Linked DNA regions of Homo sapiens: region 1 is linked to region 2. Evidence: fine-mapped expression QTL. A gene starts in region 2. The other region holds a variant in brackets. All regions are shown on one strand. Distances are from middle to middle. Region 1 overlaps TMOD2 (tropomodulin 2). Region 2 holds the start of TMOD2 (tropomodulin 2).

Region 1 (15,850 bases), 42 kb before region 2:
TGGTGGCTCACACCTATAATCCCAGCACTTTGGGAGGCAGAGGCAGGCAGATCACTTGAGGTCAGGAGTTCGAGACCAACCTGGTGAACATGGTGAAATTCTGTCTCTACTAAAAATACACAAATTAGCAGGGGATGGTGGCATGCGCCTGTAATCCCAGCTGCTCAGGAGGCTGAGGCAGGAGAATCGCTTGAACCTGGGAGGCGGAGGTTGCAGTGAGCCGAGATGGCGCCACTGCACTCCAGCCTGGGTGACAGGAGTGAAACTCCACCTCAAAAAGAAAAAAAAAAAAAAAAAAAAAAAGAAGATATAGAGACCCAATTTAATTTTGTTCCAAAATGCTAGCAAATTATCCCACCATCTTTTATTTCATTCTTCCCTGATTTGAATCTGCTTTATTGCTCTGCTAGTATATTTTTGTGCCAGTACCATACAATCTTGATTACTTTGTAATAAGTTAAAAATATATACCTTTTAAATTTGGAAAATTTAAGTATGGAGTGGATGAAGAAGAAAAGTTTATGGAGGAACTCTTGCGTCCCAAGCAAGTTTAAGGCTTATCTCTTTGCTTCTCTCTTTCTTGTCATCCAGCAACCCCTCAAACGAGTCTCTCCTCAAGAACTTAACACAATGTGGTATTTCCAGTTAGACAATAATAATTATGGTAGAGATTAACGCTCTAAGCATTTTGAGTAAATGGGAGGGAGTGGCAGCAAAAAAGTAAGAGATGCTGACCTCAGAGTTTCATGAGCAACTTTAGCAAATGACATAGTTTAGAAGAGTGGGACCGTATCAAGGGATGAGCCCTGAGCTAAGGTTAGGGCTGCCACTACTACGGCTTGTGCCCCTGGAGCATTTGAGTCCTGGACTTGGATAACTTGCAGTGTTAATGCAGTGGTCCAAAGTTACCCCAAATCACCTATATTCCCAAGTATCTGAGTCCCTCCTCTCCAAGTAGCTGGCTATTTTCCTAGTAGTTTAAATTCTGCTCAGCATCCTTACAGCTGCTTTGTTTTGCAATAAAAGACAAATCCACACTTATTCATCCTTGATTTGAATGTTCTATTTATATAGACGTCAACTGTAATTTCTTTAGGGTTTTCTCTATTTTGTAATGAACCTTGGATGACATTCTGGCAAAGTAGTGAAACAGAAACACCAACTCTGCTTTTATGTTAACTTAAACCATTAATATAATCTGGAATCAAAAATAGGAAATATTAATAATAGAATAATAGCTTTATTTTTTTTTGAGGGGGAGGAAGGAGATGCTAATAGCTATATAAAAGACTTAGAAGCTGAAGAAAATTAAATTGGGGGGCATATAAAAAAGGGGAGGAATTAATGTAACATACACTATGTTTCTTCCTCAGCCTGCATCTTTTTTTGGATTTGAGGTCTTACATAAACCCAGGACAATAGATGGGCATCAAAATTTCTTATAATTTGGATATACAGTCTTTATATATACTTAAATTATCTAAGTATGTAGTGTATTAAATTATATAACTTTTATTATGTTATATTATATTATATATATATTTTAAAGATGAGGTCTTGCTATGTTGCCCAGGCTGGACTCGAACTCCTGGGCTCAAGGGATTCTCCTGCCTCAGCCTCCTAAGTAGCTGGGACTAGAGGCCCAGGCTCTTTTTATATTTTAAGTCACCAAACACAAAGGGGGAAAAATAGAAACAAATGTTTAAGCATATCTTCAAATCGCCTTCTGTGTTTTTCTAAGTGACCTCTTTTATCTACTCAAATTTATTTAGCAGTTCCCCATCTGTTTCTTTAATATGCATCACCGATTGTTCTTCCCATGGGGGCACCTGATTAAATCACTGCACATTGACCTGGAGCCTAGCCACAGCAGCCTGCCCCCAGTGGTGGATTCTCAGCAGGCCTTCGCTTTGGTGCAGCTGCCCATTGCTGTGCTGTTAAATTGGTCTTGGCTTCTGGTTCTGCCTGAGGAAACTGTCTTACAGATTATTTTATTTCAAACCCCTCATTAGATAGATAAGGAAACTGAGGTTACTTCTAACAGTCTATGAGTCAATGAACACAATTTGGATGCAAGACAAGTTTTGACCCCGAATTCCCTCATTTCTCAAGTAAAGCAAACAATTTTTTCCAATTCCTCTAGAAAATCTTTTCTTAGAGAGAGAGAGAGAGAGAGAGAGAGACAGGGTGTGTGTGTGTGTGTGTGTGTGTGTGTGTGTGTGTGTGTGTGTGTGAGAGAGAGAGAGAGAGAGAGGGAGAGAGAATGAATATACAGGGTCTAGGTCTGTTGTCCAAGGTGGAATGCAGTGACACATCCATAACTGACTGCAACCTGGAATTCCTGGGCTCAGGTGATCCTCCTGTCTCATTCTTGCAATGCATTGGGATTACAGGTGTGAGCCACCACACCCAGCCTCTCTAGAAAATCTTAATCCTCCTTGTCGTATACAAATAAAGAGACGCCAGGCTAGGCGCGGTGGGGCTCATGTCTGTAATCCCAGCACTTTGAGAGGCTGAGGCAGGAGGATGGCTTGAACCCAGGAGTTTGAGAACAACCTGGGAAATATAGTGAGACCCTGTCTCTACAAAAATTTAAAAATTAGCTGGGCATGGTAGTGTGTGCCTGTAGTCCCAGTTACTCAGAAGGCTGAAGTGGGAGGATCACTTGAGCCAGAGAGGTGGAGATTGCAGTGAGGCCACACTGCATCATTGTACTCTAGCCTGGGCCATAGAGTGAGACCTTGTCTCAAAACAAACAAACAAAAAACAAACAAAAAAAAGAAATAAAGAGAAGCCATTTCAGAAGCAAAATGAAATACTAAAGTTGAAAAACTACACAAATCCATTCCTAGATGGCTGAGGAGGGGTGATGAGGTTGATTTAGAGGGGATTTTAGGGAGCAAATTCTTTGTACTTCAGGGTTTTGTTTTTTTTTTGAGACACGGTCTTGCTCTGTCACCCAGGCTGGAGTGCAGTGGCATGATCTTGGCTGACTGCAATCTCTGCCTCCTGGGTTCAAGTGATTCTCACGCCTCAGCCTCCCCAGTAGCTGGGATTATAGGCATGTGCCACCACACCTGGGTAATTTCTGGATTTTTTGGCAGATATGGGATTTCATCATGTTGGCCAGGCTGGTCTCAAATTCCTGACCTCAGGTGATCTGCTCGCCTCGGCCTCCCAAAGTGCTGGGATTACAGGCTGTACTTCAGGGTCTTCTTTATATGCATTGTCAAAAGCTGCTCTGTTCTAAATTTTCACAATTCTAGCTCATTCTAGGCTAATTCTAACTCAATACTAGGCATAGAGTTGCCAGGTTTAGCAAATAAAAATACAGGACACCCAGTTAAGTTTGACTTTCTGATAAACAACAAATAATTTTTTTAGTATAGTATAAGGTATCCCATATATTTGATGACACATGCTAAAATTTATACATCATTTATCTGAAAGCCAAATTTAACTGTATTTTATGTGGCAACCTTAGCTAGGTGGTATCTTGTAAGGAACTAGGGACAGAGTGTGTGATATTATTTCAGATATGGGGTTTCACAATGGCCTAAATCCGTAAACAAAGTTAAATATACTTTGGAACAGGGTATCCACTTCTGTGTTAGTTTCCCTGGAAATATTTACTAAGTGCCCACTTAGCTTCTTCCTGATATGAGTCTATTCAACAAATATCCCTGAGTGATCACTTCTGTTCTCTCCCTTCATATTTCTCTCTGGCTTGTTTCCTTACTCCCCCACACCCTGATGCCACTTTCTAATTTACTAGCAGCTGGACATATGCTAGGATACACAGCATCGAACTTCCTGAGTGTGCGGGGCCCTGTGTGGCACATCCCCTGGGGTGCTGCCTCCACATCTCTGTGTCTAGGAAAGCCGTTTTGGTGGCACATTCCTTCTGGCAGGATGCGAATGTAAAAGTTCCTCTCTCCTAGTGGGCTTTCTGTGTTCCCCTGGCAACAAACATCATTAGTCCAGGGCCAGAGGGCCTGCACTGAAAACAGTCTGCTTGTCCTGGTTAGCAAAGACAGAGAATAGAGCCTCCATAGGAACTGTTGAGGGTTTCCAGGGTTAGGCAACAGTCCTGGATGGCACTCTGCGGCTTTATCAGATCTTGGAGGGTCTGCACCAGGAACTTTCCCAGAGATGGCCCCCAGACATGCAAAGGATGCTCTGAGCAGTCACTTCCCCAACTGTCTCTCCCACCATCCCACAGGGGAACGAATGCTCATACCACAAGTCTCCTTGGTCTCTCCTTTCCAAGGCCCTTTCTTTTCAAGATATAGTGTCTGGAACCCCATCACAGACCCTTCCCCATGGCCAGAGGAGCAGGGCTCTACATCATGGCTGATCACTGAGAGTTGCTGTCTGTGGGCAGGAGTCAGCTGAAGCCAGCAGAGCAACTCGGAAGGCACTGCAGGCTGACGCTGGGAAAAAGAGGTCGCCAGGCAGGAAGAGGTGGCTCTAGGGAAAAGCACCTTGCTTTGGCTGCAGACGGGAACCTGAGAAATGCTGTGGTCATGATCAATGAGACTGTGATCAGACCACAATCTCATGGGTGTGGCCTGCTACTCTAAGCCAGACCATCTTCTAGAACCCTGATTCCTTTAAATAGGCTCTCTGCAGCCAGCATCAGACTGCAGGAGCCTGCATCTGCTCTTTTGGTTCTAGAAGTCTTCAGCCAAGGAAAAGAAATCTGAATCTTTGGACACGGCTACCCTGCTTTCTCTGTTAGCAACAGTCCCAGTGAGAAGCAAAAGTAAGGCTGGGATAGTACAGGGAAGAGATACATGCCAAAAGGCAACAATGATGAGACTGAATAAAGCAGCTATCAACACCTCTGCCACCACCTCCTTGCTTTCTCTTCTGGAGCCTGACTAGCCTAGGGTTGTGGGATAGATGGCTCTTTATGTCCCAGGCTGCCCCACTGTACATTGTTTGATTAGTAACATGCTCTTCTGCACATCCTCCATGGGCCAGAAATGGTTCTAAAACTTACAGGAAATCCAGTACATCAAATTGAGTCACACACAGAACTGTGTCTTTTAACTCATTCCTTGTGGCATTTCCCCCGCTCACTGCACACCCTGTGAGTTGACTTTGCCTATTCTCTGGCCTTCCTTACCTGGTTGTCAATCTTGATTTCTGTCAAGGTGTCATTTTCTTTCAGTGCCTCTACCAGGGCCAGGATCCCAGTTCCAGTGATAAAATTGGATTCTATGTTTAGACTTGTCAAGGTCTTGTTTACTTTCAGCATGTCTGCAAAAGCCTTATGATGCAAAAAGAAAAAAAACTTAGAATTAAGTTAGAATTTCTAAAGATTAATTTACTAAACCCCTCACTCCCAAATTAAATACAGATGTTTTCTAGCACTTAAAGAAAACCTTCATCAAATCATACTTTCACCTCCAAGTAACAAAGATACAATTTAAAACCACAATTAAAATATTTCAGTCCAGCAGTCTAGACATAAATTTCACATACTTGCAAAAACTATTTTTAAAAAAGATACTGACATAGGATTACAGATTTTTTTTGTTAAGTAGAGACATTAAAAAAAAACCACTACTGTTTTTTTTTTTTTGAGAAAACACATTTTAACATTAGAAAAAAGGTAGAAAGGACATAATCCCAGAAAACCCAGTTTTTTTCCTTTACTATGAATTAATTAAAAAAAAACTTTACCATTGACTAGCACTTGGAAACTAGTGATTTAGTTATATTATTTCAGATCATGTATAAATCAGAATTTTTAAAAAATAACTTTTGGAACAAAATCACCACTGAGGGTGGCAAACCCATGGGAGACTCCAGTTTGAGACAGCGGACTGCACACGGGCACCTGCCGGCTCTCTTTACTCCCAGAGTTTCCCACCACCAGGAAGAAATAATATAATTTTTAAGAGACTGGAATTCTCACAGTGCAAGAAAACAAAACAAAACAAAAGGCCATTATCTTGAGGAATTGCTGAAATACAGAAAATAGAAAGATTCACAGATAAATTAGCACAAGCAAGTTGTTGCCTGAGCTGCTAGAGATAGGTCCCATTTGGGGCAATTCCTTAAAGAACCGCCTTAGGAACAGATGGAACAGCTAGGGCAGATGGAGAGTACACTATCCCTCCCAGCACCTTCCAGGAAAAAGAGCAGCTGCCAGCACAATCAATGAAGTCTCCCAGGAAGAGCCTCTGGTGAAGGTGCTGCGACCTGTGACAGAAGCAGTGCGGAAACAGAGGCGCCTCCAGACCTTCACACCAGTACAGTGTGGGGGGAAAATGGGAAAGGCAGCTCTGCCAGGAATGAAGTACAGTATTCCCTGCAATCTGCGGTTTCAGTTACCTGCTGTCAACCTCAGTGGGAAAACGTTAAATGGACAACCCCAGAAATAAACAATTCATAAGTTTTAAATTGCATGCTGTTCTGAGTGGTATGATGAAATCTTATGGTCTATGTCGCCCAGGAGGTGAATCATCTGTTTGTCCAGCATCTCCGTGCTGTCCCTGCCTATGAACCAATGACACTGTCTGCTTTTGACATCCAACCATTGACATCGTCATGGCTGGATGAGCCAGGATCACCGGAGGTAGATGATCCTCCTTCTGACAAATGGTCAGAAGGGCAACAGTAGCCTAACGCAGTCCCCTTGCCTATGTCATTCACCTCACTTCATCTCATCATACAGGCATTTTACCATCTCATGTCATCATCACAAGAGGGAGGAGGATAGTACAGTAAGATATTTGAGAGAGACCATATTCACACAACTTCTATAACAGCATATTGTTATTATAATTGTTCTATTATTAGTTATTGCTGTTAATCTCTTACTGTGCCTAGTTTAAAAATTAAACATTATTATAGGTGTGTAGTATAGGAAAAGACATAGCACATATCGG[G/C]TTTGGTACTATCTGTGGTTTCAGGTATCCACTGAAACCTCTGCAGATAAGGGGACTACTATACATTGAAAGGTGCCCCTCCCAGAATGAAGTCCTCCTAACTGTAGCGATTGCAGGGGACTCTCAGGCTGCCTGTGAGCTCCTTATACACACACTGCAGAGAAGGTGGCAGGTCAGCACACCTGCTGCTGAAAAAAAGCTCTCACTCATACATTCAAAAAAGACTATTTGTCAGGCTTCTACTGTGCTCTAGCAGTAAGAGAAAACAAAAATCCTTGTCCTCAGAGAGGCTTATATTTGAGCAAGAGGGCAGAGTCAATAAATTAATAAATAAAATATATAGCTTATCAGATGGTGACAAATGGAGAAAAATAAAGGGGCCTCCTTTTTAAGGGAGAGGTCTGTTGGTAAAACAGATAGATACAACTGCAGGAGAAATGATCCTGGATTATACAAACCAACCTTGCTCTCCATTATAAACAGGGAACCAATAATTGCCAGACATTTTAAGAAAACCAACATCATGAAAGAATAAAGTTGACCAAGCAGGTCAATATGCCATAGAAGAAACAGACACAAATTTAAAAATTCTGATTATGTATTATTTTCCTCCCTGCCCCACAAGAAAAAGAAAAAGAAAGAAAGAGAGAAAAAGTCGGGTGGGGGGTGGGGGGCGGCGGAGAGAGACAGAGAAAAGAAAAACATTTTGAACATTTAAAAAAACTACATTGAAATAAAAGAAAATAATAGACATCTAGAATTACAAAATAAGCATGGCTGAAGACCAAGTTGGTGATCTAGAAGATAACACTGAGGATATTTCCAAGGATATACAGCAAAAAGATGAAGATAGAAATTATGAGAAAACCTTAAGAGATGTGGATGAAAGATGCAGAGATTCAACATTCATCTAAGAAGAGTTCCAGAAGGAGAAAGAAAGAAAGAAAGAAAGAAAGAAAGAAAGAAAGAAAGAAAGAAAGAAAGAAAGAAAGCAAGCAAGCAAGCAGAAGAGAAGAAGTTATCAAATAATTAAGGAGAAAAAATAAATTTCCCAGAGATGAAGAAAGTTACGGATCTTTATCTGAAGGAAATAACTAGACACTCAGCAGAATGAATAAAAAAAACTTTTTTTTTTTTTTTTGAGACAAAGTCTCACTTGACATGTTGCCCAGGCTGGAGTGCAGTGGCACTGTGTCGGCTCACTGTAACCTCCATCTCCTGGTTCAAGCAATTCTCCTGCCCCAGCCTCCCAAGTTGCTGGGACTACAGGCATGGGCCACCACGCCTGGCTAATTTTTTTTATATACTTGTAGTAGAGACGGGGTTTCACCATGTTGGCCAGGCTGGTCTCGAACTCCTGACCTCAGGTGATCCACTAGCCCTGGCCTCCCAAAGTGCTGGGATTACAGGTGTGAGCCACCGCACCCGGACCAAAATGACTCTTAAGTGAACAGACAAGTGAAATTTCAGAATTCCAAGAGGAAAGAGAGTACTAAAAATTTCTAGCAAGGAAAAACAAGTTACCTGCAAAGGATCAAAAATCAGGTCAGCACTAGTCACTACATTGTAAGGCCCATGAGAATGGAGATTTATATTTATATAAGTCATATAATTGTAAATGCTGCTAATAGGTTAATTTTTGGAATCAATCTATATACAAACACAGAATATAATTACAGAAAATGTATAAAGCTCAAATGTGTGAAAATAATGGAATATCTACAATTTGGAAGTGGAAGAGAAAGGAGGAATGGAAAATTAAGTATAGAACTACCCTCATCTTTTATAATAGAGAATAAAAAATTTTCTAAGATGATAAATGAAAAATATAAATTTCTGTATATTACTGGTTTTCTACATTGACCACACATTAGAATGGTCTGGGAGCTTTAAAAAATTTACCCCAGATGAATTAAATCGGAATCTCTGAGGCTGTGGAATGGCCATCTGCATTTCTGAAGAGCTCTCCAGGTGAATAATGTGCAGTTAGGATTGACAACCACTTTTTTCTTTTTTGGTGTAGAAACAGGTCTCTCTATGTTGCCCAGGCTGGTCTCGAACTCCTGGCTTTAAGTGATCCTCCTGCCTCGGCCTCCCAAAGTGCTGGGATTACAGGCATGAGCCAGTAACCACTTTAATTAAAGTCATAAAGACAACAACCAGAAGAATGAAAAACAAACTGCTAATAGTGATTGCTTCTGGGGAGTAGAACAAAAAAGTTCTGAACTATTTTAATTGTTTTTACAGTGGAAAAGACAGGAAGAAGGAAGACGAGAAGTCCCAATATTGGATGAGAACAGGGTTATTTAACCTCAGCATGACTGACACTTGGGGCCAAAGAATTCTTTGTTGTGGGAGGCTGTCCTGTGTATTGAAGGATATTTAGTAGTATCTCTGGCCTCTGAGACTCACTAGATGTCAATAGCACTCCTCCCCATCATGACAACCAGAAATATCTCCAGATGCTGCCTATTGTCCCCTGGAGGGCAAAATTGCCCTAGGTTGAGAACCACTGGACTAGAAGAATAATCCTGTATCTTGGTCAGGCAGTTGCTTGCACTGCAAAGAAAGCTCAACAATTTGGATTTACACTATCGCATACCATGTAAATTAAAGTGCATTTATTCTGTGCTAGGTCCTTGATTAAAATTAAATCTATACATTTTAATCTGATCATCAGAGAGGGATGCATCAGGACTTTCCTTTTGGACTCTACAAGCTTTGGGATTTACTATCATTATTAGAATAACAAAATGTCAGAGCAATTAGGCCTTTACAGAAAGTTGCAGGACCTCCTGGCGAGTTGCCAGGATCTTGCCAATTTCTTTTAAACTTGAGAAAACACTTTCTTGTGCTGAACAAAACAGGGGCGAGCCAGCCAAACACAATACTGGGCTGTAGGCCCAGGTTCACTTCAGTTCAGCAAATATTTGAGCATATTACATGTGCTGGGAATAATAACATTAGTAAAACAAAGACTAGATGTTTTAAATGTAATTGAAGTAGAGTAGAAATACATCTTTAAAGAGAAGGGTTTGCTGTCTGTACTTTATAGGATTGTATGGAAATGCAAATTTCTGCACTGGCCAAATGGTAGCCATGAGAAATGTGGCTACTGAGCCCTTGAAAACTGGTTAGTCTGATTTGAAATGTGCTGCAAACATAAAACACACTGGATTTCAAAGATGTAGTATGAAAAAAAGAATGCAAAATACCTCATTATATTTTCAAATTACATTTTGGATATATTGGTTTAAATACAATACAGAGAGTCCCTGACTTACGATGGTTCCACTTTCCATTTTTGGAATTTACCATGATGTGAAAGTGATACTTATTCAGTATGCTCCTTGACTTATGATGAGGCTATGTTCAGATAAAGATTTTCAATTTACAGTAGTTTTATCTGGACATAACCCCATTGTAAGTCAAGGAGCATCTATTTACTACTAAAATTAATTTTGTCTACTATGTATTTTTTTTAATGTGGCTACTAAATAATTTAAATTTATACATGGGGCTTCCATTTGTGGCTCATGTTTTATTTCTTTTTATTTTTTATACTTTAAGTTCTGGGTTACATGTGCAGAATGCGCAGTTGTGTTACATAGGTATACACGTGCCATGGTGGTTTGCTGCACCCATCAACCTGTCACCTACATTAGGTATTTCTCCTAATGTTATCCCTCCCCTAGCACCCCACCCTCCACAGGCCCCGGTGTGTGATATTCCCCTCCCTGTGTCCATGTGTTCTCATTGTTCAACTCCCACTTATGAGTGAGAACATGCGGTGTTTGGTTTTCTGATCTTGTGATGGTTTGCTGAGAATGATAGTTTCCAGCTTCATTCATGTCCCTGCAAAGGATATGAACTAATCCTTTTTTATGGCTGCATAGTATTCCATGGTGTATATGTGCTACATTTTCTTTATCCAGTCTATCATTGATGGGCATTTGGCTTGGTTCCAAGTCTTTACTATTGTGAATAGTGCCGCGATAAACATATGTGTGCATGTGTCTTTATAGTAGAATGATTTATAATCCTTTGGGTATATGTCCAGTTATTAAGATTGCTAGGTCAAATGGTATTTCTAGTTCTAGATCCTTCAGGAATTGCCACACTGTCTTCCACAATGGTTGAACTAATTTATACTCCCACCAACAGTGTAAAAGCATTCCTATTTTTCCACAACCTCTCCAGCATCTGTTGTTTCCTGACTTTTTAATGATTGCCATTCTAACCGGCATGAGATGGTATCTCATTGTGGTTTTGATTTGCATTTCTCTGATGACCAGTGATGATGAGCATTTTTTCATATGTCTGTTGGCTGCATAAATGTCTTCTTTTGAGAAGTGTCTATTCATATCCTTTGCCCATTTTTTGATGGGATTGTTTGCTTTTTTCTTGTAAATTTGTTTAAGTTCCTTGTCAATTCTGGATATTAGCCCTTTGTCAGATGGATAGATTGCAAATTTTTTTCTCCCATTCTGTAGGTTGCCTGTTCACTCTGATGATAATTTCTTTTGCTGTGCAGAACCTCTTCAGTTTAATTAGATCCCACTTGTCAATTTTGGCTTTTGTTGCGTTGCCATTGCTTTTGGTGTTTTAGATATGAAGTCTTTGCCCATGCCTATGTCCTGAATGGTATTGCCCAGGTTTTCTTCTAGGATTTTTGTGGTCCTAGGTCTTACATTTAAGTCTCTGATCCATCTTGAGTTTATTTTTGTATAAGCTGTAAGGAAAGGGTCCAGTTTCAGTTTTCTGCATATGGCTAGCCAGTTTTCCCAAGAGCATTTATTAAATAGGGAATCTTTTCCCCATTGCTTGTGTGTGTCAGGTTTGTCAAAGATCAGATGGTTGTAGATGTGTGGTGTTATTTCTGAGGCATCCGTTCTGTTCCATTGGTCTATGTATCTGTTTTGGTACCAGTACCATGCTGTTTTGGTTACTGTAGCCTTATAGTAAAGTTTGAAGTCAGGTAGCGTGATGCCTCCAGCTTTGTTCTTCTTGCCCAGGATTGTCTTGGCTATGCAGGCTCTTTTTTGGTTCCATATGAAGTTTAAAGTAGTTTTTTCCAATTCTGTGAAGAAAGTCAGCAGTAGCTGGATGGGGATAGTGTTGAATCTACAAATTACTTTGGGCAGTGTGGCCATTTTCATGATATTGATTCTTCCTATCCATGAGCATGGAATGTTTTTTCATTTGTTTGTGTACTCTCTCTCTTATTTCCTTGAGCAGTGTTTTGTAGCTCTCCTTAAAGAGGTCCTTCACATCCCTTGTAAGTTCTATTCCTAGGTATTTTATTCTCTTTGTAGCAATTGTGAATGAGAGTTCACTCATGATTTGGCTCTCTGTTTGTTCTTGGTGTATAGAAATGTTTGTGATTTTTGCACATTGATTTTATATCCTGAGACTTTGCTGAAGTTGCTTATCAGCTTAAGGAGATTTTGGGCTGAGACTATGGGGTTTTCTAAATATACAATCATGTTATCTGCAAACAGAGACAATTTGACTTCCTCTATTCCTATTTGAATACCCTTTATTGCTTTCTGTTGCCTGATTGTCCTGGCCAGAACTTCTAATACTATGTTGAATAGGAGTGGTGAGAGAGGGCATCCTTGTCTTGTGCCGGTTTTCAAAGGGAATGCTTCCAGTTTTTGCCCATTCAGTATAATATTGGCTGTGGGTTTGTCATGAACAGCTCTTATTATGTTGAGATACGTTCCGTCAATACCTAGTTGATTGAGAGTTTTTAGCATGAAAGGCTGTTGAATTTTGTTGAAAGCCTTTTCTGCATCTATTGAGATAATCATGTGGTTTTTGTAGTTGGTTTTGTTTATGTGATGGATTATGTTTATTGATTTGCGTATGTTGAACCACCCTTGCATCCCAGGGATGAAGGCGACTTGATCATAGTGGATAAGCTTTTTGATGTGCTGCTGGATTCGGTTTGCCAGTATTTTATTGAGGATTTTCACATCAATGTTCATCATTACTGGCTTAAACATCCTCTTTTTTTGTTGTGTCTCTGCCAGGTTTTGGTATCAGGATGATGCTAGCCTCATAAAATGAGTTAGGGAGAATTCCATCTTTTTCTATTGCTTGGAATAGTTTCAGAAGGAATGATACCAGCTCCTTTTTGTACCTCTGGTAGAATTCGGCTGTAAATCGGTCTGGTCCTGGACTCTTTTTGATTGGTAGGCTATTAATTATTACCTCAATTTCAGGACCTGTTATTGGTCTATTCAGAGATTCAACTTCTTCCTGGTTTAGTCTTGGGAGGGTGTATGTGTCCAGGAATTTATCCATTTTGTCTAGATTTTCTAGTTAATTTGCGTAGAGGTGTTTATAATATTCTCTGATGATAGTTTGTATTTCTGTGGGATCAGTGGTGATATCCCCTTTATCATTTTTTATTGCATCTATTTGATTCTTCTCTCTTTTCTTCTTTGTTAGTCTTGCTAGTGGTCTATTTTGTTGATCTTTTCAAAAAACCAGCTCCTGGATTCATTGATTTTTTGAAGAGTTTTTTGTGTCTCTATCTCCTTCAGTTCTTCTCTGATCTTAGTTATTTCTTGTTTTCTGCTAGCTTTTGAATATGTTTGCTCTTGCTTCTCTAGTTCTTTTAATTGTGATGTTAGGGTGTCGATTTTAGATTTCTCCTGCTTTCTCTTGTGAGCATTTAGTGCTATAAATTTCCCTCTAAACACTGCTTTAAATGTGTCCCAGAGATTCTGGTACGCTGTGTCTTTGTTCTCATTGGTTTCAAAGGACATCTTTATTTCTGCCTTCATTTCGTTATTTACCCAGTAGTCATTTAGGAGCAGGTTGTTCAGTTTCCACGTAGTTGTGCAGTTTTGAGTGAGTTCTTAATCCTGAGTTCTAATTTGGTTGCACTGTGGTCTGAGAGACAGTTTGTTGTGATTTCTGTTCTTTTACATTTGCTGAGGAGTGTTTCACTTCCAATTATGTGGTCAGTTTTAGAGTAAGTGCGATGTGGTGCTGAGAAGAACGTACATTCTGTTGATTTCGGGTGGAGAGTTCTGCAGATGTCTATTAGGTCCACTTGGTCCAGAGCTGAGTTCAAGTCCTGGATATCCTTGTTAATTTTCTGTCTCATTGATCTGTCTAATATTGACAGTGGGGTGTTAAAGTCTCCCATTATTATCGTGTGGGAGTCTAAGTCTCTTTGTAGGTCTCTAAGAACTTGCTTTATGAATCTGGGTGCTCCTGTATTGGGTGCATATATATTTAGCATAGTTAGCTCTTCTTGTTGAATTGATCCCTTTACCATTATGTAATGCCCTTCTTTGTCTCTTTTGATCTTTGTTAGTTTAAAGTCTGTTTTATCAGAGACCAGGATTGCAACCCCTGCTTTTTTTTACTTTCCATTTGCTTGGTAGATCTTCCTCCATCCCTTTATTTTGAGCCTATGTGTGTCTTTGTACATGAGATGGGTCTCCTGGGTACAGCACACTGATGGGTCTTGACTCTTTATCCAATTTGCCAGTCTGTGTCTTTTAACTGGGGCATTTAGCCCATTTACATTTAAGGCTAATATTGTTATATGTGAATTTGATCCTGTCATTATGATGCTAGCTGGTTATTTTGCTGCCATTAATTGATGTAGTTTCTTCATAGCGTTGACGGTCTTTACAATTTGGCATGTTTTTGCAGTGGCTGGTACTGGTTGTTCCTATCCATGTTTAGTGCTTCCTTCAGGAGCTCTTGTAAGGCAGGTCTGGTGGTGACAAAATATCTTAGCATTTGCTTGTCTGTAAAGGATTTTATTTCTCCTCCACTTATGAAGCTTAGTTTGGCTGGATATGAAATTCTGGGTTGAAAATTCTTTTCTTTAAGAATGTTGAATATTGGCCCCCACTCTTCTGGCTTGAGAGATCCGCTGTTAGTCTGATGGACTTCCCTTTGTGCTTAACCCAACCTTTCTCTCTGGCTGCCCTTAACATTTTTTCCTTCATTTCAACCTTGGTGAATCTGACAATTATGTGTCTTGGGGTTGCTCTTCTCGAGGAGTATCTTTGTGGTGTTCTCTGTATTTCCTGAATTTGAAAATTGGCCTGCCTTGCTAGGTTACAGAAGTTCTCTTGGATAATATCCTGAAGAGTATTTTCTAACTTGGTTCCATTCTTCCTGTCACTTTCAGGTACACCAATCAAACGTAGATTTGGTCTTTTCACATACTCCCATATTTCTTGGAGGCTTTGTTCGTTTCTTTTCACTTTTCTTTCTCTAATCTTGTCCTCTGACTGTACTCCATTAATTTGAACTTCAATCACTGATATCCTTTCTTCCACTTGATCAAATCGGCTATTGAAGCTTGTGTATGCTTTACGAAGTTCTTGTACTGTGGTTTTCAGTTACAAAGTTCTTGTACTGTGGTTTTCAGCTCCATCAGGTTATTTAAGCTCTTCTCTACACTGGTTATTCTATTTAGCCATTCGTCTAACCTTTTTAGCTTCCTTGCAATGGATTAGAACATGCTCCTTTTGCTCAGAGAAGTTTGTTATTACCGACCTTCTGAAGCTTACTTCTGTCAACTCGTCAAACTCATTCTCTGTCCAGTTTTGTTCCCTTGCTGGTGAGCAGTTGTGTTCCTTTGGAGAAGAGGCGTTCTGGTTTTGGGAATTTTCCGCCTTTCTGCTCTGGTTTCTCCCCGTCTTTGTGGTTTTAGCTACCTTTGGTCTTTGATGTTGGTGACCTATGGATGGGGTTTTGGTGTGGATGTGCTTACTGTTGATGTTGATGCTATTCCGTTCTGTTAGTTTTCCTTCTAACAGACAGGCCTCTCAGCTGCACGTCTGCTGGAGTTTGCTGGAGGTCCACTCCAGACCCTGTTTTCCTGGGTATCACCAGCAGAGGCTGCAGAAGAGCAAATATTGCTGTCTGATCCCTCCTCTGGAAGCTTTGTCCCAGAGGGACACCCACCT
Region 2 (15,850 bases):
TATATTTTGATTGCCAGCCTTTTTTTCTTAGTGATACATAAAATACTGGAGAGTTTTACAATCAATGGTATCTTAGAGTTTATAAGATTCTATTTGAATTTTTTTTTTTTTTTAAAGACAGGGTCTCATTCTGTTGCCCAGGCTGGCTTGATCATAGCTAACTGCAGCCTCCAATTCCTGGGCTCAAATGATCTTCCTGCTTCAGTCCCTCGAGTAGCTGGGTCTACAGGTGTGTATCACCATGCCCAGCTAATTAAATTTTTTTTTCTTTTTTGCAGAGATGAGGTCTTACTATATTGCCCAGGCTGGTCTTGAATTCCTGGGCTCAAGCAATCCTCCTGCCTCAGCCTCCCAAAGTGCTGGAATTACAGGCATGAGCCACAGTGCCCAGCCTCTATTTGGATTTCTATTGCTGGATTCTCTAACTAAACCTAAACTCCCAATTTTTCTCTAAACAGAGTTGCCGTCTAGATTAATCTACCAGTCAGACACTCCCAACACTCAGACCAGCTTCAGACTCTCCCACTTTTTTTTCTGAGTCCAGCCGGTCAGCACCTCCTGCAGGTCCTTATTGCACAACATTTTTCACACCACCCCTTCTTTTCACTCTTGTTTCAGCCTTTTGTTCCTTCATACCTGCACTACTCTGATTGCATCTTGAAAGATTTCTGTTTTTCCCTGTAAGCTACCCAGAACACTATAATTGGATCATTTTTCTCAACACTGCTAACAAGCCACTTCCCTGGTTAAGAACTTACAATGGCTCCCTCTTGTCCACAGAATGAAATCCAGACAATCTAGCTCCAAAGCTCCCATGATTTGGCTTTAACCTGCACTTCCTGTTTTCTCTCTCGTTACTTTCCTGGGGAGCCCACTTCGGCTAAAATGGCTTATTTGCTCTCTGTGGTAGGCAGAATCATGGCCACCTAAATACGTCCTCCTCCTATTCCTCACATCTATATGTTACTTTACATGGCAAAACAAATGAGTTGTGATTAGATTAAGGATTAAGGATTTTTTTTTCTTTTTTTGAGACAGAGTTTTGCTGTTGTTGCCCAGGCTGGAGTGCAATGGCACGACCTCGGCTCACTGCAACCTCTACCTCCCGGGTTCAAGCAATTCTCCTGCCTCAGCCTCCAGAGTAGCTGCGATTACAGGCATGCACCACCATACCCAGCTAATTTTTTGTATTTTTAGTAGAGATGGGGTTTCACCATGTTGCCCAGGCTGGTCTTGAGCACCTGATCTCAAGTGATCCACTCACTTCGGCCTCCCAAAGTGCTGAGATTATAGGCGTGAGCCACCACGCCCAGCCCAGATTAAGGATTTAAAAATAGAAAGACCATTTTGGATGATCTGGGTGTGCCAATGTAATCCAAAGGACTCTTAAAAGATGGAAGAGGAAGGCAGAAGAGTCAGTGTCATGCAATTTTTTTGCTTTGAAGATGGTGGAAGGGGCCATGAGCCAAGGGATGTGGGCAGCCTCTGGAGGCTGGGAAGGGCAAGGACATGGATTCTCCCCTAGGGCCTTCAGAAAGGAATACAGTCCTGTGACACCTTGATTTTAGCCCAGTGACATGTGTTTCAGACTTCTAACTTCCACAAAAGTAAGAATAAGTTTGTATTGTTTTAAGCCACTGGATTTATGCTAATTTGTTACAGCAGCAATAGGGAATGAACACACCCTCTTACCCAAATACTTCCATTTTCCAGGATGATTGTTCTGGCTGTCTTCTGTTTGCACCTCCACATCCACTCCCCTGCTGCTCTGTGCTCCAGGAAGATGATCTATTTAGACTGTATCAATGGGTTCCCTTTCTGTCTGGCTTCTGTTTGGCCCACAGGGGGCACTAGCAGGAAACTGGAGAGCAGGGGAGGGGGAGATTGGGTCCAGAAGGTCACATCTCCCAAGAGGCAGCCCTCTCCATACAGCTGCCTGCCCCTGGCTGGCCTCAGGCCTTGGGTGGTAAGGGTTCCTTGTGCAGCTGGTGCCAGAGTTCTGCCTTGTTGGATTCCCTAAATCCTCCCCCCATCTTTGTAAATAGCCTCTTTATTAAATTTTTCTCAAGTTACTCGAGTGTATCCCGTTTCTTGTTGGGATGCTGGCTGATACATTAATATTACTTGGAATGCTGTTCTCTATTCTCATGGCCTATCTATGCGCTCTGCTCTTGAGACCTGGCTCAGATCCCAGTTCTGCAGGACCACAGAATGTCAGAGCTGAAAGAGTCCTTAAAGATTGCTCAATCCAGCAACATAGATGGTTTTTCTTCTATTTCTCTGACCATTTCTTTTTGGTCTCTTTTAGCAATTCTTCTTCCTCCACCTTAAATACTGGCATTCTTCAAGGTCTCATCTTATAAATTCTTCTATTTCCATACTACATATTCTCTCTGGAGGAACTCATCTGCCTCCAAAATTTTAATTATAATATATATCCAGGAGATTCCAAAATCTGTATCTTCATCCTAGACTTTTTTCCTGAGGGTTAGGCCCCTATATTTCCATCTGCCTAATTCACATCTCTCCTTGGCTGCCTCAGACACCTCAAATATGTCAGAAGTGCTCTCATCATCTTTCCTCCTCCAGAATCTCCCATTTCAGGAAATTGGCCGAAAAACCAGGGAGCCATCCTTAACATCTTCTCTCTCTCGTCTCTTTTCCAGCCATCAATCACCAAATCCTGTCCTTACCTAAACGTGTTGAGAATCCACCCACTTCACTCATCTGCATTGTCCACATTCAACCCTATCCCTTCCTGATCCATTCGCCATACAAATGGCCAAAGTGAGCACAGAGTTAAACAACTCTTCTCTAGTTACTTAAAATCCTCCAGTGGCTTCTGCTGCCTTGAGGATAAGGTTCAAATTCAGTCTGTCTTCTGTCATCTTCGTCAGCCTCATCCTGTGCTGCACTCCCCATCTCCTCCTGGCTCCAGCCTCCTGGCCCAATTCCAATGCCTGGATCATGCCTTATGTTGTTCTCTCTGCTCAGAACACTCTCACCCCACTCCCCTCTGGCTGACTGCTATCCTACTCATCCCCTGGTCTCATGCAAGCTTCACTTCTTCAGGGAAGCCTTGTTTGGACCTGGAGACAAGGTCTGGGTCACTCCCCATCTCCATGCTACCCCTTTAATCACATCTGTTCTTGGCTTTATTACAACTACTTGCTTTATCTCTATTTTCCTTGCTAATCTCTGTGAGGGAGGGGGACTGTATGAGTTTTATTCACTGATAAAATCCTGACTCCCAGCACAGTTCTTGATCTGAAGTAGGTATCCAATAAATATTGTGTAACAAATGTCATGTGAAAGAAATGAGTTCAAATGAACCCGCAGGTCCAGAGCTCATTCCACTCTATCCACTGCTTCCTCTCCCTGTGATGGAGCTTTCTGAGATCATCTAAGCCCACAGAAGTTGCCCCTTCCTCTAAATTTGTATGCCTACATCACCAATTTGACATATCTTGCTATCTTTTCATGTATGTTGCATGTATGGTTCTCTCTCCAGCTACACTACAAACTCCCAGAAAATAAGTGCCATGTCATACTTCAGTAGGAAAATACATTAATTAATTAAAATAACATGTTCATACTATGTAACAGTAGCTGTTAAAACAAATTGCCTATGTTGTGTCAATGTACCAGGGGATCTCAAAGTCAGAGGAGAAAAAAAAAACTTGCATCCTCCTGGAGCACAACTTTGATCTGAAGATTTGGGGAAAAGCTAGTTATTATTATTATTATTATTATTATTAGAAATAGGGTCTCACTCTGTTCCCCAGGCTGGAGTGCAATGATGTGATCATAGCTCACTGCAGCCTTGTACTCCTGAGCTTAAGTGAACCTCTTGCCTCAGTATTCCCCCCACCTCCTTTGACCCCAGCTGAGACTACAGGTATGTCCCACTATACTCAGCTAGTTTTTAAATTTTTTGTAGAGACAGGGTCTCGCTACATTGCCCAGGCTGTATTTTTAAAAAGCAAATATAGAAATACTGTGGAGAAGAATGCAGTATTCTCATAGCTTTTAAAGTCAAATCAAAGCTTTTCCAGCTCATGGCTGGTCTGCTTTTGCCCCCACCAAGGCTGCCCAAGGGCTCCCATTTGTCTTCCGTCCTGTTAGCAATGCTGCCGTGGGAAGTTAGCAAGCACTGCTACAGCCTCCCCTCCAGTGGTGTGTCTGTCCCATGGCAAGCATTTAACATGCAATATGATGCTAATGTACATGCTGGAGTGAAGCAAATGCCTAACAAGGCTTCCAGGAGTCCTGGTGGGCAAGTACAGGAGCCAGTTAGGAAAACAGAAAATAGGATTAAAGACTTGAGCTGATGGAAGCATGACTTGGGCCCTTAAATAACTCTTCCTATTATCCAAATATACAAGCCTTGGGAAGGAAAATAAGGAGTATGGCTTTTTTTTTTTTTTTTTTTTTTTGAGACGGAGTCTGGCTGTGTCGCCCAGGCTGGAGTGCAGTGGTGCGATCTCCGTTCACTGCAAGCTCTGCCTCCCGGGTTCACGCCATTCTCCTGCCTCAGCCTCCCGAGAAGCTGGGACTACAGGTGCCCGCCACCACGCCCAGCTAATTTTTGTATTTTTAGTAGAGACGGGGTTTCACCATGTTGGCCAGGCTGGTCTCGAGCTCCTGATCACAGGTGATCCACCTGCCTTGGCATCCCAAAGTGCTGGGATTACAGGCGTGAGCCACCACGCTCAGCCCTCTTTATTCTTTTTAATATGTCTTCAATATTTCATAATTTTAAACAATTAGTGCACCGATTTGCACCAGAACCAAATCCACATTTTCTAAAACTAGTAAATTAGAACAGAATCTGCATATCAATGTATCCTCCAACAAAACATGAATTGATCTTAGATATTTAATTCATTTCTGGCTGCTGGGCAAATATAACACAGCAACCGCCTGTTTTGTAATGTAGCTATTTGAAGATGGGCCAATTAAGTTTGTTTTATTTTAAACAACTAAAAGACTTCTATATATTCTGGGAAATACTTGCAGAGGATGAAGGACAGAATGAGGCGGGATAAGGAGAAGTCTCAGTCTGAAATATGGTACGGCAATGGGAAGGAACAAGCTGAAAGAGGAAAGAGGAACAGATCTTACTAGAATGCAGAGCTCGTATTTCCCAATCTTACAACACAAACTTGCCAAAGATTAAATCATACTTGAAAAACAAGGTGCCCACTAGTGACTGCTCCTGTCCAAGGTTAGAAGAACACAGAAGACTAAAAGCACGGGCCTTGGAGTTAACCAACCCAAGGTCTGATGGTGCAGATATGTGTGCAGTGACAACCTCTCCAAACTTCTGGTCCTTCCTCAGTAAAACATGCAAAGAACAGTACTTATCTCAGAAGGCTGAGGTGACACTTAAGGTGACCATGTACATATTAGGCGCAGTGTCTAGCAAGCGCAAGCCCTCAGTCAAAGCTATTTCTCTTTCGTCCTTGGTTGTGGAATAATCTCGTGTTTTAGGTGTTCTTTCCCTCTGTTTTCCCCATCAAGATCTGCTGAATATAAAGAGGCAAAACCTGTAAGAGCTGCGGGTCAGCATTGCCAGGTGTAGAAAGCCACCATAGTGTAAGCTAGCCAAGCTATGAGATAGATTTCCACCTGGGTAGGAAGCAGTCAAAAAGCCAAAAAGTCTTGCTGTCTGCCCAGCCTGCCTCTTGGTTTCTAATTCTCATGGCGGGTCCTATTTCCCGCTGTTGTCTTGTCCCTGTGTTTGGCCTTCTTTTCTGTTTTTAGAGGAGTTCCTCTTGCTTGACCTCTATTTATCTCCTTGCCTTCCACTTGGAGATCTGCGCCTTTCTGGGTTTTAACTGCCTGTTGCTTTTAACCATGTCCTTCCTCTTGCCTTTGGGAACTTATGGGCTTCTTCTAACTTCCTGATTGGCACCGGGTTTCCTGCTTTTTGTCCTTTGATTCATGTGCCCTCCTTTCTTCTGCTTGCTTATGTGGTCTTTGACTCACTCATCTTGTCTCTTTCTTTGGCATTTTATACCAGCTAGGTTTTGATCCAGGTTTTGTAATGACTTATGGATGCTGTATGCACCCTGACTTGTGAGTGCTTACCTAGATGATGTGCAAAACATTTAGCAACTGGTATAGAAGGGACACTGCCCAGTCAGAATGGTTGTTTATCAACAATGAGGACAGTTGTCCCCATGCACACCGCTTGAATAGCAGCCCAGCTCACTGGACTCCACACTCCTCTAACCACTCTGATGAGGGACCTCCTGGTCCTTTCTTAGGGCTTGTGCCCCAGCTTGTCTCCTTTCTCCTCATGTCCAGGCTTGGCATGGCTGGCCTTGTGCCCTATTTTGTGAGCTCCTGCCACTCACAGTCCTGGAGTTGACTTTCTCATCCCCACCCTACCTAGCTCTCACCAGGGGAACCTAGGAATAGTGATGACACATGTGAAAGAGGTAATTAGTGGGGCAGCCTTGATGCCAAAACAGGATGGCAAATCATAAAAGCAGAAATAGCAAGAAATCACAGCTTTAAGGAAGGTTGTGCTGAAACATGGGACCAAGGCCAAGGAACTCAAAATGGCTTTGGGAGGAAAGGTGGCTATTTCAGTCCATGGAAGAGCCATAGCAGAAGAGCGCATCTCATTTTACACAACCACGAAGCCTTAAAGTTACGTAGAATTGACTTTTTGGTGTGCTGAAAATAAAAATGGTTCATAGTATACAACAAAGGACTAAGCAGGAGAATTTATAGGAAGAAAGTTAGGAAATTTAGGATGAAAAAGTAGACTGGGGTCAAACTGTTATGATCCATTAAAACCAGAAACTGAAATTTGAATTCTAATCTGTAAGTAATGTGAAGCACAAATACTTACAACTTACACATTTAATCATATGTCCTGACCTTTCACTCAAAAATGCATTAAAGGCAGTTTCTCAAAGGTGGTTCCATGTAACGATAGCCCCTCAAGATATTTTTCATTTTTTATTTTTGCACACAGTTTGGGAAACATTACATATCACATCCTATGGACATTCCCACCCCATTTACATCCCCATATACAATGATCATTAACCCATGAAAGGCTCTGAAAAGTCAAGAATAAACCAACTTGTCCAGCTTTGTTTAGTGTTTTCCACATCTGGCTAGGCAATTTCTTTTTCTTGTAACCCATTAACATTCTATGTATTTTGGGGAATACTGACTGAGAGATTCACAAGTACACACAGACATTCATGCAAGTAAATATGTATACTTTAAATTAGTATTTTCATGTATACATAAACACATATAATCCAGGTAAAGCAAAAATATCTTTGCAGCAAGGGATTCCGTGTAAGAGATTAAGTGTTGTAAGAGTTGATTCTGTTTTCGTGGTCTGGTAACAGGAAGTCTCTTCTGCACATGCCTTCTATGAACCTCTTTGAACCACTTAAAGTCTATAAGGAAAACATTTGGTTGTATATGATTTACACACAAGGGAATGAGAGGAAACCCCAAAACTTCTATCCTATCACAAAGCTAAATCATTTTTCCCCCAACACTACCCTAACCCAAAATAAAATGAACCACTGCCTATGTTCTCAAACTTCCTTACACACTGACACAGATCTCGGACACAGAGAGGAAAGGGACAGCACTTTCGGGATGGTTCTTGGGTAGGGCTAGAATTTCTTAGGTATGGAGAATTACTAATACTTTGAAGTTGAAGCTAGAGGATGGGGTACTTAAGCATAAATGATTGAGAGTAGCCAAGATAAACCAAAAATGGGAACACCAACCCCCCGTCCCCCCCACTCACACCTCCAATAGGTGATTTCAATTTTGGGAAGGTGAAGCCAAGAAATTCCCCACAGATTCACTGCAGCTGTTTGTCACGAACCACCCCCGTCTTCTACAACACTTTCTCTTTATTCGCTTATTTATTTTATTGACTTCCCCATTTCTTAAAGTTCAAATCTATAGAAAAGTTAAAAGAATAGTACAATAAACATTTGTTTTCTTCTTGATTCACCAACCGTCATCATTCTGCCACATTTGCTACGTTCCTGAACTTGTTCTGCTACCCCTATCCTTTTTTTTTTTTTTCTGACACAGCTGAAAGTTGCAGATGTCATGACACTTCACCTCCAATATCCACATCTCCAAAGAATAAGGATTGTCTGGTCTAGGTAACCACAAGAATGAACTATTATTGCACCTAAGAAAATTAACACCAATTCCATAATATCATCTAACATGCAATCCATATTCAAACATCCCCAACTATCTCCAAATTGTCTTTTATAGCTTTTTTTTTTGCATCTAGGATTCAAAGTTCACACATCCCAATTCACTATTGTATCACTTGAGTATTTTAACCTACAATAGTTGCTCCCATTTGCTCTGCCCCATCGCCAAGTCTTTTTGCAGGAACACTACAGAGGTGAAATTATGCCTCCTTATTGCTTCACAACGGGAGACTCGCAGTAGATGCTGCTAAACTTGGTCATTTGGTTCCAGTGGTGACCTCCTAATTTCTCCATTGTAAGGACAAATTTTCCCAGAGTAAACTGTGGTGAGATACTTTGAAATAATATGAAAATCCTATTCCCCAACCACCTTTCACTCAAAGGTTTTGGACCAGTTGGTAAGTCCTTGCCTTATTCAACTGTTATGTTAGGTTTGCAGAGCGCCGAGTTCCTGATTCTCTCATTCCTTCTATTGCATATTTCTTTTTCAAACAATGATCCATCAGTACGCAACTTCTCTTTTCTGTGTATACACATTCTGGTTACTTCTTGCTGGGGCTTCCTCCCCGACCTCCATGCTGACCACATTTGACCACTCGTGCCCAGCCCTAGGGAGCCACTAATCCTTTATCTGCTGATCCCATCACTTCACCTTCAGCAAATTAAAGACAAAAACAAACCCCATCATTTTGTTGCCCACCAATGTACAGTACCTTACAAAAATTAAAATGATTGCAATGCGTATTTATTGGGTTAGACTGAAGAGAGTCGATCGAGAAAATCAGTTTTATCTTTAAAAAAAAATCAGATTGCTGAAGCTCTGAAAAATCTTTCCTCCTCACTAGGGTAGAGGCGCTTGTTGTCACAATTAGGCTTTTTGTAGTGCTGTTAAACAGAAACACTCTCATCTTTTCAGTTCCCTGAGAGGGGAGAATCTTGGAAGAACAGAGGTTTACAAATCATTTAGCCCAAACGCCCCTTTACATGCAGAGGCCCAGAGAGGTGGAGGGACTTGCCCAGGTCCCTCAGCTCCTGAATGGTCAAGCTAAGAGGAGAACCTGGTTTTTAAAACACCTCCCCCGATCTTCTTTTCATTCCCGTCCTAAATGCCTCGTGATTCAGATATGTAATGGGCACAGACGAAGCTGCAGTAAGCACGGCCTCCTTCACTGCTAATTTGCATTGTGACGGCATCACCTTCCTACCTCTGAATACTCTAAAAATTCCCATTAGAAGCCTTTTATTACTGTTTTAAAAATCCACCTTCATTTCCGCAGGTCAACAGGGAACATTTAGGAAGCCTCAAGGGAGCACATACTACAATTACTTTAACCAGAAAAGTAATAACAATAATAATAAGGTTCTCGAGGATCCGCACGAGGCCGCTTACTGGGAGGCTGAAACGCCCTGCGAGTGACAGCTCCAGCGATCTCAGGAAAGACGCCGGCCAGTCCACCCCTCCCCATCGCCTGCTGAACGAGGCAGGGAGATGCATACCGCTCCAGGAGCTCACCAAACATGCACAGGAAGGGGAAAAGTGGGGGAACAAAGCCCGGAGTGGAAGAACACAGCCCCGCAGCCCGGGAGGACAGGAGACCGCGCCCTCCCCGCTGCGGCCCAGCGGGCTGCAGAGGCTGCGGCACCGCAGTGCGGGGCGCGGGACTCACACCCCGGCGGGCGCCTCCCGCCCGGGCGCAGCGCCTGGTCTCCCGGCGCAGCCGACCGGGCCGGGAGGCGAGAGGCGAGAGGCGGCCCGGCTCTGCACGCCCGCCCGGCCGACCGCCCATGTCGCGGAGCATCCTCCCGCGGGCAGGGAGGGCACGGCGGCCACCGCGCTGCGGGCCCGGGGGCTGCAGACACCGGCTGTCCAGAACAGGCCCCACCCGCCCCCCGGGGCGCTCACCCGTCCGTGCGCTCATCCCGGAGCCGGCTGTGCTGGCCGTCAGTCCGTCAGCCCCGGTGGAGCGGGGCCGGGAGAACAGGGGCGGCGCCGTGGCCGGGGCGAGCGCGGCGATCAACAGGCGGCTCCCGGCCGGGCGCGGCGCCGGGGCGCGCGGCTGCAGCGGAGCAGGCTGGGAAGCGTAGTTCCCGGCTGAGCCTCGCCGCGGCCCCGCAGTCCCCCAGCCCCGCCCTTCCCCGACAGGTGTCCTCTCCCGGAATCGGGGTCTGAACCCCGCCACAGCTCTGCAGGGGAGGAAGCACCTGGGTCGGGGAGAAGCCTGGGCAGGCTCTTTGGAGACGCTCGGGGCTCCGGAGAGCGTGGATGGCAAAGGCTTTCAAGCCTGTGATGAGCATTCCTGTGAGCGAGCATCCTGACACGGAAGCCGCGTTGAGAGCGGTCTCAGGTACAGACCCCGCCCGCCCCAGGTTTTCCTGGCTGGGCGTGGGCGTGGGAGGAGAGAGTAGTTGGGTTGGCAGCCTAGGGAGGGAAGGAGGTAAGCGAGGTGGAAGTTAGCAAGGCTCTAGGGTGATGGCGTGAGGGGCTGGAGAGCCCAAGCGCAGTGGCGGCTTCACTGAGGTGAGACCGGACAACTTAGCCTGTCTGAGCCTTCGCGTCCTCATCTGTAAAACAGGCTTCAAGCTTGAAAAAGTGTTGTGAGGATTAAGCGACCCATAGCACTTAGGATCTGGCACTTAGTGCATACTCAGTGAAAGTTCCTTCCTTGGGGTTTCCGAGGGAGTTCTTGGGCCGGGAAAGTCCTATATGTCGTGCTAACCTAAAGATAGTTGGACCTCGTTGGGCTGGGTAAATGTTAAAATCCACTGGGTTTGTTAGTCGTTGAGCCCGTTCACTTCATCCCTGAATATACCCTGAGATGTTCTGTCTGCCAGGTTCTTGAGAGCTCCAAAGATAGAGAAAATAAAGTCAAGTTTCTGAAGCATGACAGCAGAGTGGGGTGACATAGGACAAAGACCAACATTATGAAAATACATGGCATCTAGATTTAACTTCCAGAGGCCTTTTCTAATTAGATGTGATATCTCTCTCCTTCTTGAACTTTTGCAGCATATTTTGAGCATAACCTTTGCTTATGGGACTTATCTTGGCAGTCTAAGGTTCGTTGAGTTTTGCAAGTTGCTGCTATGCAGTGTTTCACATGATGGTGGGATTTGCATTCACAGATGTAGTGGAGGAAAATGAACCAAAGGGATGGATGCAGCATGGCTGGTGTAATCTCTATATGAAATTTTAGGCAAAATGTGAAAAGAGGTGAAACAGCTTTATAGTCTGTCTGGCACGAGGTGTGCAGTAATCGTGTGGCCAAAAAAACGTGCTGCAGAGGAAATTCCACATCTGAAAATGATAACACTGGTTTGCATTTATGAAAATACTTTCCTATTTGTGTTCTCATTTGATTTTTACAAGAACCCTTGTGAGACAGGCAGAGTGAAGGTATTTTTCCCCAATGATAGTTAATAAGAGGCACAGAGAGGTGATGTGACTTATTCAAGGTCATAGGGGTGTTCAGTAAGCCTGTCTTCTCTCCTTCCACTGTGGGCACCCCCAGCACTGTCTCCCTTTTGCACATTGCAAAATAGGGCCATACCTTCCCCAGCAGATGGGTTGAACCAGAAAGTAAAGTTAATCCTCTAAAACTCTGGGAACTAGCATGATGAACACTGGCACGCAGTGGCTGCTGACTGAGAGACCAGTGTTGTTTCTATGATCAATTGTGGTAATGGACTATATCTTGGGCCTCCTGTCAGAATGACAAATCTGAGCCAGAAAGAGTTAAATGAAATGGGGGTGTGACCAAATTACTTTAAGTCATGTTCCCAAGTTTTCCTGTACATTTGTTATTCCGAATGTCCTGTGTAACCGACAGGATGCCTTTGACTTTTTTATGTTGTACATTTGTTACAGTCATAGCCTTCTGTTAAATAAGAACAGGGCTGCTTACGGATCGAGCCAGCAGTTTTCCCAGAGAAAGCTGATAGTAGGCATATGCTGAAAATAATAAAGCAATTTCATTCATATTGGAAGAAAGAGTAGCAAAGGTGCTCAGTAGTGTACAGTATTTCTCTTTGGTTTCCCGTGGTTCTGCACGAGGAAAATGGCTGCATGTGATAAAACGAATAGAGTATTCCTTCAGAAACTAGCCATGAAAGGAAGCAGACAGGGGAATGATTTAAGTTAAAGTCATGTTCGGCAGTCGAAGCAGAGATACAAGAGCTATCCTACAGCCCCAGAGCCATGCTCCAGGAGGATGCTGACACCAAAATAAAGTGAGTTGTGAAAAGAAACTTCTGATCAGTCTCTGTCTGTATGATGAGTGTTGGAAGCTGGAAGGTGTTAAAGGATGAGTGAGGGAAGTAGAACATTTAACCTAATGTTAAAACTTAATGGAAAGATATTACCAGTTCCAGTCTGTTTAGCTCTTTAAATCTATTGCCTATGTCTTATCTTAAGGAAGAAAGGATGTCAATATGCCTATGACTTATCAGTTGAAACCCATGATCATTTCTGGACCATATCTTGTAAGTTTAACTTTTCTACTTGCTTTTTAGAAGATGAAAATGTAAAATTGAAACAGAACTCCTGGAGCTGGAAGGGACCTTACATATCATTTTGTGTAGCCATTTCTTCCTGTAAATGAGGAAGCTGATATATTGACTGTAATTGTCAAATGGCAGAAAGGAAAAAAGTTCAACGTGGCAGTTATAATGAAGTATTTTAATTATTCACAGTGGAATATGTAGCACACCTCATTAGGAACAGGTAGTAGACACTGTTGGTTGTCTATTAAACATTCAGTCCACCCTCTTCTTCTTTATAGAAGCCTATATGGGTGTTTACACATTAGGAAAGGTGACCCTATTAGCCTCTGAGAGGTACACTCTCAAATCTATCATAGACAAGAGGAATAGAATCCTCTTAACTGGCCTGTAAGAGTTTAGGAGTGGACATGTGACCCAGTTCTGGCCATTGTAAAGAGATACGATGAATCTGGGTCGGCCATATTGTTGTTGAGTCAGTCATCAACCAGCCCCAGTGCTGCCCTTCTTCTGGATTTCTTGTTATATGAGATAATAAATAACCTTATTGTTGAGTCAATTTGAGATGGAGTTTTCTGTTACTTGAAGCTGAAAGCATCCTAAGTGTTAAAGATGAAATGTGAAAGTACATTCTTTGGATGGACTGAAAGACTGCTTCCTAGAGTTGATTAAAAACAACCACCACAAACCACAGGCAATGTGATGGGATATTATCATATAACAGATAACAACATGGGTTTTAACATCAGAGAGTTTGAACCCAGATATTTACTGGCACAATGACTATGGCCAAGTTTCTGTAACCTCCCTTAAGCCTCATTTTCTTCATCTTTTTTTTTTTTTTTTTTTTTTTTTTTGAGACGGAGTCTTGTTCTGTCACCAGGCTGGAGTGCAGTGGTGCGATCTTGGCTCACTGCAACCTCTGGGTTCAAGCGATTCCCCTGCCTCAGCCTCCTGAGTAGCTGGGACTACAGGTGCTGCCACTACACCCGCCTAATTCTTTGTATTTTAGTAGAGACGGGGTTTCACCATGTTGACCAGGATGGTGTCGATCTCCTGACCTTGTGATCCACCTGCCTCGGCCTCCCAAAGTGCTGGGATCACAGGCGTGAGCCACCGGGCCCGGCCTTCTTCATCTCTTAAACTGAGGATAATAATACTTACCACATGGGGTTATTAGAAAGACTAACTGAGATAATTTGTGTCAAAGATGCTTCAAAGGATATGGTGGATGATAAAGACTAAAGGAGCAGTGACTATGTTGATGAATTATGAATTAAATCGTATGTGTAGTATAATTGACAGCAAACATCTAAAAGCTAATTACTATGTAATCATGATCATGTTAAATGATACCACAGTGATGCAATCAGCAAAATCCAAAATATAGGAAGCTCTACATGACAAACAACTGATTCTTCAATAAATAAATTGCAAGAAAAATAAAAGGAGAGAAAGCTTATAGATACACAGAAATTCAAGAGACAAATAACAAAATGTAATGTGTGATCTTAATTTGAGAAAGCAGCTGTTAAAAATTCACATTAATGAGACAATTAGGGAAAATGTGAACACAGAATATTTGATTATATTAAGGTCTGTTTTCTAAAATTATTATTATTATTTTGAGACAGAGATTTGCTCTTGTTGCCCAGGCTGGAGTGCAATGGCGTGATCTCGGCTCACCACAGCCTCCACCCCCTGGGTTCAAGCGATTCTCCTGCCTTAGCCTCCCAGGTAGCTGGGATTACAGGCATGCGCCACCACGCCTGGCTAATTTTGTATTTTTAGTAGAGATGGGGTTTCTCCATGTTGGTCAGGCTAGTCTCAAACTCCTGACCTCAAGTGATCCGCCTGCCTCAGCCTCCCAAAGTGCTGGCATTACAGTTTTTGTTGTTGTTGTTGTTGTTGTTGGTTTTGAGACAGAGTCTTACTCTGTTACCCAGGCTGGAGTGCAATGGCGTGATCTCGGCTCACTGCAACCTCTGCCTCCCGGGTTCAAGCAATTCTCATGTCTAAGCCTCCCAAGTAGCTGGGACTACAGGCGTGTGCCACCAAGCCCGGCTAATTTTCGTATTTTTTTTTTTTTTTTTTTTTTTTTAGTAGAGACAGGGTTTCACCATGTTGGCTAGGCTGGTCACGAACACCTGACCTCAAGTGATCTGCCTGCCTTGGCTTCTCGAAGTGTTGGGATTACGGGCATGAGCCACCATGCCTGGACTAAGGTGTTATTTTAAAAAATTTTTTGATGTGACAACAGTATCATGATTATTTTTTTGAAGAGTCCTTACTTTTTGGAGCGATAAACTGATTATTTACAGAAGAAATAATATCAGGAATTTACTTTAAAAATTATCGAGTGTGGGAGACGGGGTAGAGTGGTGGGGTGGGGTATAGATGAAATGATTGGCCATGAGTTGATAATGGTTGAAGCTGAGTGTTGGAGCTTTATTAAACCATTCTCTCTCTTTCTCTCTCTCTAAATACAGTTTTGTTAAGACATATTTCACATATCATAAATTCACCTTTTTAAAATGCACAGTTCAATGGTTTTTAGTATATTCACAGAGTTGTGTAACTATCTCCCAATCTATTATAACTTTAGAACGTTTTCAAAACTTCAGAAGAAACCACAGACATGTTAGCACTCATTCCTCATTCCCCCTACACACCCAGACTCTGGCAATCACAAATTTATTTTTTGTCTTCTCTAGATTTGCTTATTCTGGATATTTCACGTAAATGGAATCATACAACATGTTGTCTTTTATGACTGGCTTCTTTCCCTAATTATAATATTTTTAGGGTTCATCCATGTTGTAATACACATTAGTACTTTATTCTTTTTTATGGCCAAATAGAATTCATTGCATGGATAGACCACATTTTGTTTATCTGTTCATCAGTGGATGGACATTTAGACTGCTTCCACAGTTTTGCTGTTATGAATAATGTTGCTATGCACACTCATATACAAATTTTTGTACAGATATATTTTTATTTCTCTTGGGTATATATCTAGGAGTGCAATTACTGTGTCATATGGTAACTTTATATGAAGCATATTGAGGGACCACCAAACTGTTTTCCAAAGTATCTGCACCATTTTACATTCTAACCAGCAATGGGTG

Evidence for each region. PIP is the estimated chance that this variant, and not a neighbour inherited with it, causes the effect.
Region 1: its variant is fine-mapped to the expression of TMOD2 in whole blood (TOPMed, PIP 0.98).

What each region holds. Positions count from the first base shown.
Region 1 is chr15:51,787,622-51,803,471 of GRCh38, reverse strand. TMOD2 (tropomodulin 2) reads right to left here. Exons shown (of 10, transcript NM_014548.4): 8 at 5,132-5,275. Among named protein-coding and RNA genes, the nearest start is that of TMOD3, 34 kb to the left of the region's middle. RefSeq lists enhancers at 8,582-8,751, 15,702-15,850. The variant G/C (reference allele first, on the strand shown) is at 6,903.
Region 2 is chr15:51,745,988-51,761,837 of GRCh38, reverse strand. It overlaps TMOD2 (tropomodulin 2), which reads right to left and starts at 10,241. Exons shown (of 10, transcript NM_014548.4): 1 at 10,126-10,241. It also overlaps a transcript of LYSMD2 not described here. RefSeq lists silencers at 9,828-9,887, 9,918-10,027, 10,078-10,507 and an enhancer at 10,618-10,687.